Homo sapiens: one gene and its partner. The protein of the gene in region 1 purifies or fractionates together with the protein of each later gene. This does not show direct contact. Each region holds a gene or a part of one and is shown on either strand. Other genes may lie near its edges.

Region 1 (3,599 bases):
TTTTGGTGAATGCTTAGACATTCCAGTACCTATATTTGCCTTCTTATATTCTTTAAATGATAAACCTTTTTCATAGTGCAACAGAAAAGGATAATATATGTAAGACATATTGGAATAAATGGTTAAGGCAGCTCACAGCTGTATTCTTTGGGCCGTTAGGGGTGAGGGATCAGTATGTTCAGCACCTTTAGAACCCATTCCCATATGCAAGGTCCACTGGCTTGGGAAGCTCTGCTTGAAAGCATTTATTACTTTGGAAAAGTCCTAATAGGCTCAGCTAAAAATGTATGTTTTACTGGGAAAACCAAAGACTTGGATATGTAGATATCTTTATACCCATTACTCATACAGTCATTTTATAACAAAAGTGTGATTAATAAAACGCTGTGTATGTGAAATTAAGAATTGCTGAGACTGGGCGCGGTGGCTCATGCCTTTAATCCCAGCACTTTGGGAGGCCGAGGCGGGCGGATCACTTGAGGTTAGGAGTTCGAGACCAGCCTGACCAAGATGGAGAAACCCTGTCTCTACTAAAAATACAAAATTAGCCAGGCGCAGTGGCACATGCCTGTAATCCCAGCTACTCGGGAGACTGAGGCAGGAGAATCGCTTGAACCTGGGAGGCAGAGCCTGCAGTGAGCCGAGAGCACGCCATTGCACTCCAGCCTGGGCAAAAAGAGTGAAACTCCATCTCAAAAAAAAAAAAAAAATGCTGAGTAAACTGTAAACATATACTGTATGCATAGCTGGGGTACATTAGAGTATAATGGAATGTACTGTATTTTGGTACTTGAATAAGTAATTAGCGAGGTGGGGGGTTATTTGATCCAAGATGAGGACTCATTTAGGCTGTCTCCACTTCGCTCTTCTCTGTCCTTCACCTCTCCTTCATCCATTTATATTTTCTTGGTAACTTCAGTTACACGTTAAGGTATGTACTGGCCATAGTGTTTTAACACTGAGAATTCAAAGACAAATAATACTCCGATTTTGCCTTCTCATAGTGTATAGGCTTCATAGGTGCACAGAGTGCTGTGGGAGAACACAATAGAGAATGATTAAACTTGTGGAGGGTGTGGGGGCAGTTTACGGAAAATAACACTGAATAGGAATTTGCCAAACTGGGGAGAGGGAGTCATGTCAAACAGAAGGAAGTGTGGGTGCACTGAGGTGTCAAGTGTTAGGGTAAGGCTAGTGATAAGGTGTTACTGGAACAGTGGGAATGACTCGAGATGAGCCTGCAAAGGTGTGTCTGGTCTAGATTTTGAAGGACCAGCCTTGCTAAGCTAAAAGGGAAGTGTATAGCCTTATCTGACAGCAGAAGAGAGAGCCAAAATATTGTTAGCAGAGGAGCAAGGCGATTTGGAGGTCACTTTGGCATCCCTGTGGAGAATAGAGTGGAGGCCCTACAAGTGTATATTTGAGATAGTATGGAGTTAGTGACTTTGAATCTGTTTTCTTCTTTTTTTCTGAGATGAAGGCTCACTTGGAGTGCGGTGGCGCGATCTCGGCCCACTGCAACCTCCGCCTCCTGGGTTCCAGCCATTCTCCTGCTTCAGCCTCCCGAGTAGCTGGGATTACGGGCTCCTGCCACCACGCCGACTAATTTTTTTGTATTTTTAGTAGAGGCAGGGTTTCACCATGTTGGCCAGGCTGGCTTTAAACTCCTGACCTCAAGTGATCTGCCCACCTTGGCCTCCCAAAGTGCTGGGATTACAGGCGTGAGCCACCATGCCTGGCCTGGATCTATTTTTAACTTGGATATGGTGTCTTCTGAGTCTGTGGTCCCTTAAGGGACTTTAGGGCTATGCCCAGTTGCTCTATAATACAGGGTCATTTAAAATCAAAGTGTCAGTATGTTTTGGAAGAAGTTAAAAGCAGTCAAAACAATGAAAGTTATAAAATGTTACTCATGAAAGTTCAGGTGTTGAGAATACTTGTCTTCTGAGTTAGGCTTAGGCAGGCTATAGACCTTAAGCTGGAAAATTCAACCCTATGTCCACTTGAAATCAAAGCCACCAAGCTTAAAAAGTTACCAGTATCCTGATGGTTTGCTAGGATATGGGTTGTAAACATTTTGTGAAATTTTGGGGGGAAGGCAGTTTTCTCTCTAGTAAATTATTGGAATTGGAATAGTGAGACTAGCTTAAGGTCTAAGAAGTTCTCATACAACTGTTAATTTATACAGTCAGTTCTGCTGTAAAGCAACATACAGGTTCCTAAAAATCACTGCTTTGCAGAATCGTGCAGTAGAAATGACTTACAAATGGGGTTGGGGTACAGCACTCTAAAGCTTTATCAGTGACACATTTAAAAAAGGAACCTGGTAAAAATGATAGAACAGTTTTACACGTTGAATGGTTAAGAAATATATAGATACTGTAATAAATGTGGCATTTTCTTTGAAAAAGCCCTGGTTTGCTTGTGGAAAGGGATGTCAGAAAGGTTGCTGCTGGTGAGTTACTGTGAAGTGGTAGAAGAATTACTTATAATCAGATGGAAGGTTGTAACACGAGAAGCAAATAGGTGTGGCTCTTAACCCATAATAAACTGACTTAGCTGGTGGGTGTTTGAAGTGTGTTTCATGTATTTCTACACAGTTCAGTTCGGCTGGGTGCAAGCTTTCTCCCTTCATCTAGTGTTTATGTGACAGAATAGCACATAAATAAACAGGAAATATGGATTGTGCTCAAATTGTTCTCTAATTTGTGTATCAATCACAGTGGAACAAATTCACCTTTTCTTTTCTTTTTTTTTCCCCCCTTTTTCTTTCTTTTGCTTTTCCTTTTCCTTTTCTTTCTTGACAGGGTCTCACTCTGTGTCACCCAGGCTGGAGTGATGATGACTTGCTGCAGCCTTGACCTCCCAGGTTCACCCGAGCCTCCTGAGTACCTGGTATCACAGGTGTGTGCCACCACACCTGGCTGATTTTTCTTATTTTTAGTAGAGATGAGGTCTCTCTACGTTGCCCGGTTTGGTCTCACACTCCTGGGCTCAAGCAGTCCTCCTGCCTCGGCCTCCCAAAGTGCTAGGTTTATAGGTGTGAGCCACTGCACCTGGCCAAATTCACGTTTTCTTTTTCTTTTCTTTTCTTTTTTTTTTTTTTGAGATGGAGTCTCACTCTGTTGCCCAGGCTAGAGTGCAGTGGCGCTATCTAGGCTCACTGCAGGCTCCGCCTCCCGGGTTCACGCCATTCTCCTTCAGCCTCCTGAGTAGCTGGGACTACAGGCACCTGCCATCATGCCTGGCTAATTCAAATGCACGTTTTCAAAACAAGTTTTATAGTTGATTATACTTGTTTAATACTAGTTTTAAATAGTACTATAACTCAGTTTCAAAAATACTTGTTGAACAATCTATGTGTCAGGTAACATGCTACCTTTGTGGGGCTTAGAGTCTTTTGTCCCAAGTAGGTTTATAGTGTTGTGGAGAAGGACAAATGAACCAATAGAGTACTCATCGGGTTATACAGTAATTAAGAAAGCACAAAGCATTTTGGGCATGCTAAGGAAGGAGAAAGTCATTCTGCTTGGAAAACCCAGGGAGTCATCTCAGAGGTCTTTAAGCTGGATTTTAAAGGATGGATAGGGATTTGTTAG
Region 2 (3,599 bases), on another chromosome or scaffold:
ACATTGGGGGAGGAGGCAGTGGCGGCAGCAGAAGTACAGCAAGGCAGCAGAATTGGGAGCAGCCCTGGCTGGGGGCCAAAGCCAGCTCACCCTGACAGCCAGCTTAAAATCAGGGAGAATTTGGAGGGAGGGGGTGGCAACAGCACCCCACCCAGACTACAGAGGCCAGGCCCAAAGCCTCTCCCTGGGGTGGGGCAAAAGAAGGCTAAGGGCAGGCCCCATGAGCTAAAGAGATGTGAAATGCCCTGGCTCACGCCTGTAATCCCAGCACTTTGGGAGGCCAAAACAGGCGGATCACCTGAGGTCAGGAGTTCCAGACCAGCCTGGACAACATGGTGAAACTCTGTTTCTACTAAAAATACAAAAATTAGCCAGGCATGGTGGCAGGCACCTGTAATCCCAGCTTCTTGGGGGAGACTGAGGCAGGAGAATCGCTTGAACCCGGGTGGTGGAGGTTGCAGTGAGCCAAGACCGCGCCACTGCACTCCAGCCCAGGCAACAAGAGCAAAACTCCGTCTCAAAAAAAAAAAAAAAAAAAAAAATCCACTCCTAAAGCGAGAGGTGGCCCAAGCCACTCAGGCAGAGGTCAGTGAGCTCTGGAGGTGGCCTTGAGGAGCAGAGAGTGGCGAGTGGGGAAAACCCAAGAAAGTGCAGCTACGTCCACCCCGCCGGACTAAACCCCACTCGCCCTTCACCCCATCTTAGAAGCAGCTTTCCTACCCCTAAGCACCCAGATCATGTATAAGCTGAGCCCCTCCCGGCATGGGAGCAGGAAAGAGGGGTAGTTAGGAACACAGGGACTGAGTCCTGCCACTCCAGGACACAGCTAGGCTCTGTCTCCTCCTATGCCTGTGGCTTTGACCACAAGTTATTTGTCCCACTCTGAACCTCAGTTTATCTGTAAAATGGGGATAATAAAAGTACATAAACTGTTCTAGTTTGTTGGCAGAAATATGTGCCTAACACATAGTTAGCACTTGACAAATACAACAAATTATTAGGATAGTCATTATCATCCTCAACACGGGTCCCTGGCCAGAGAGGATGTGCCTCATCTTGTCGCATCTACACCCTTCACCTGGTCTAAACTTTAGAGTACCCTGAGGACCAAGACGGTATCCCACCCCACCCTCCACCACTGCTCCAGAGGCAAACATGGCGCTGGAACTACAAAACGTGAATATCCCAGTGTTCTGAGACCTGAAATGAGGGAGGGGTGAAGCTGGAAAGATGTGTCTAGAGAAATAGCAGCTGACCTTGACCCCAGAGAGACAGGGAGGGTGCCCAGAGAAGACTGCACGGCTTGGGCCCAGGGAGACAAGAAGAACCCACAGCCACCAGCCGTGGGAACCGGTGCAAGTCACACTGCCTCTCTGGGTCTCAGTTTCCCTAGTTTTTGTGAGGAACAATTAACAAAACCCCATGAGTACTGGGAGTAAGTTACTCCCAACTTACAGACGAGGAATCGGAGGCCCGCAGAAGAGAACAAACTTGCCCAAGGTCACAGAGGTGGTGACAGAATCAGAACGCAAGCCTGGCAGATGGACCCAGAGCCAGACCCCTCTGAGCTATTCTCAAGGACTTCTCGTTACAAAGGGAACCTCCAAAATTTTCTTTAAAGAGAAAGTGCCCATAGTGGGCCAGGCATGGTGGCTCATGCCTGTAATCCCAGCACTTTGGGAGGCCGAGGTGGGTGGATCACCTGAGGTCTGTCTGGAGTTCAAGACCAGCCTGGCCAACATGGTGAAACCCCATCTCTGCTAAAAATACAAAAATTAGCCGGGCGTGGTGATGTGCGCCTGTATTCCCAGCTACTCAGGAGGCTGAGGCAGGAGAATCGCTTGAACCCAGAAGGCAGAGGTTGCAGTGAGCCAAGATCGCACCACTGCACTTCAGGCTGGGAGCCTGGGCGATAGACCAAGACTCCGTTTCAAAAAAAAAAAGAGAAAGTGCCCATAGTGTAGAATTTCCCTACATCAGAATTTCCCTGCTCAGAACACTAGGTTCTTGGACATTAGCCAAATTAGCTTGGAAAATACTGCATTACTTGTCTTTAAGGTACTAATATATGCTAATATACAGACTAAGTCTTCTGTACGGCCACAGAGTACCCAGCATTTTCCAAACATATTCACAGACTGGTATTCTTTAGGACACATTTTAGAAAAGGCTGCCCGAAAGCATAAAATTCAAACAAGCCCCTCGAACTCCTCTCTAAAGCAACTGTTTTCGTTCGGCTTTTTGAGGAGCCGTGCTTTCTGTTAGGAGCCACGCTTTCTGTTGCATACAATGAGGCTCACCTGTATGGCATCACGGCTAACCCCTGAACTCGGGTTAAAGTCAACACTGGCCAGATTACGGTAACACAACCACAAAAGCCTGGGTGTTTTAAAGACACAATGATGACACTATCCTCCTCTTCCCCTAACCTAGTCCCATCACAATCCCCGCCCCACCTCCCTCCATCCTAAACTAAGGGAACAAGATGATCACTTTCCACTTCTTAAGAGCCACCCCACACAGAACGGAAAGGCAGAGAGCTGTGGTGGTGGGGGGGGGGGTTGGGTGGGAGGGGGGCAGTGGTCCCACAGTGGCCACACCTGAAAGCAGTTAACATATACAAGTGAGAAAGAGGTACTCCTGACTCTTTGCCCTTAAGGGGTCACACCACCTTTCGACCCTCCAGCGGAGAGGATAAAAATCACTTTCCTGCTTCACAGAGCAGCTGTGAAGATCAATGAGGTAAGACGTGTGGTTAAGCATGGGGTGTGCAAAGTTCTATGAGTCCCAGGAAGAGAAATCAGGAACAACCACGCCAAGCCTGGACTCTCCCCTGCACCAAGAACATTAAAGCTGGAACTCTGCACTTCCTGAGTCAAACCCTGAGAAACTGAGGCTCAGAGCCCAGCAACCTGCCCAGGACCACAAGGGCCTCCCAACTCCTAGTCCTGCGCCCTCCCCTCGTCCCTGCAGTCCTCAATGCAGCCTCAGTGGTTCCCTGTGCTCCGTCACCACCCCGTCAACAGCCTGAGTCGTCAGGAAGCTCCACTTCCTCAAATCCCCCTGGGCATCTCACTGGGCCCATCTTCCTCTCTCCCTTCTCCTCCTCCATCCCAAATGCCTCTCCAGAGTCCCCAAGACCACCATGATATGCTCTAGCCCCTTCCTGCTCCTCTCCTCCCACCACCAACCCCTTCCACTTATAAAAGCCCCTGCCCCACACTTCCCTTGCCTTCCCCACATACCCAGTGAGAAGCTCCCACTGTGGGGCTGGAAAAGGTAACATTTTCTGCTCACTAAAGGGAATAAAAGCGAATCTCAATGGATGGAAATGTTAACAAAACGGATGCAATGCCTTTTTAGCACGTTTCTCAGCTGCAAAACCATCTCAGCTGGTTTTAAAACATCCATGAAACAGACTGTGCTTGCCTTGCAAAGCCTTTGGAAAGTTCTTTCAGCAAATTTGCACAGAGGCCAAGGTCATGGGGCCAGGTCCCCATACCCTTCAGGTTCTTGAACTTGCTATTCCAGGCTTCAAGACAGGACAGGCAAGAAGCACCAAGTACCTAACCTCTTTGAGAACCCGTGGGTTCCACTGT

What was found. Proteins that work in one complex are often made in the same cells at the same time.
Region 2: the proteins of CNOT6 (region 1) and TNKS1BP1 purify together in Homo sapiens (affinity purification with mass spectrometry; 3 studies listed by BioGRID and IntAct, with this or other methods). This does not show direct contact.

Annotation. Positions count from the first base shown.
Region 1 is NC_000005.10:180,497,350-180,500,948, forward strand, and holds part of CNOT6 (CCR4-NOT transcription complex subunit 6), read left to right. Parts: intron 1-3,599. UniProt on the Homo sapiens protein: Poly(A) nuclease with 3'-5' RNase activity.
Region 2 is NC_000011.10:57,304,354-57,307,952, forward strand, and holds part of TNKS1BP1 (182 kDa tankyrase-1-binding protein), read right to left. Parts: intron 1-3,599.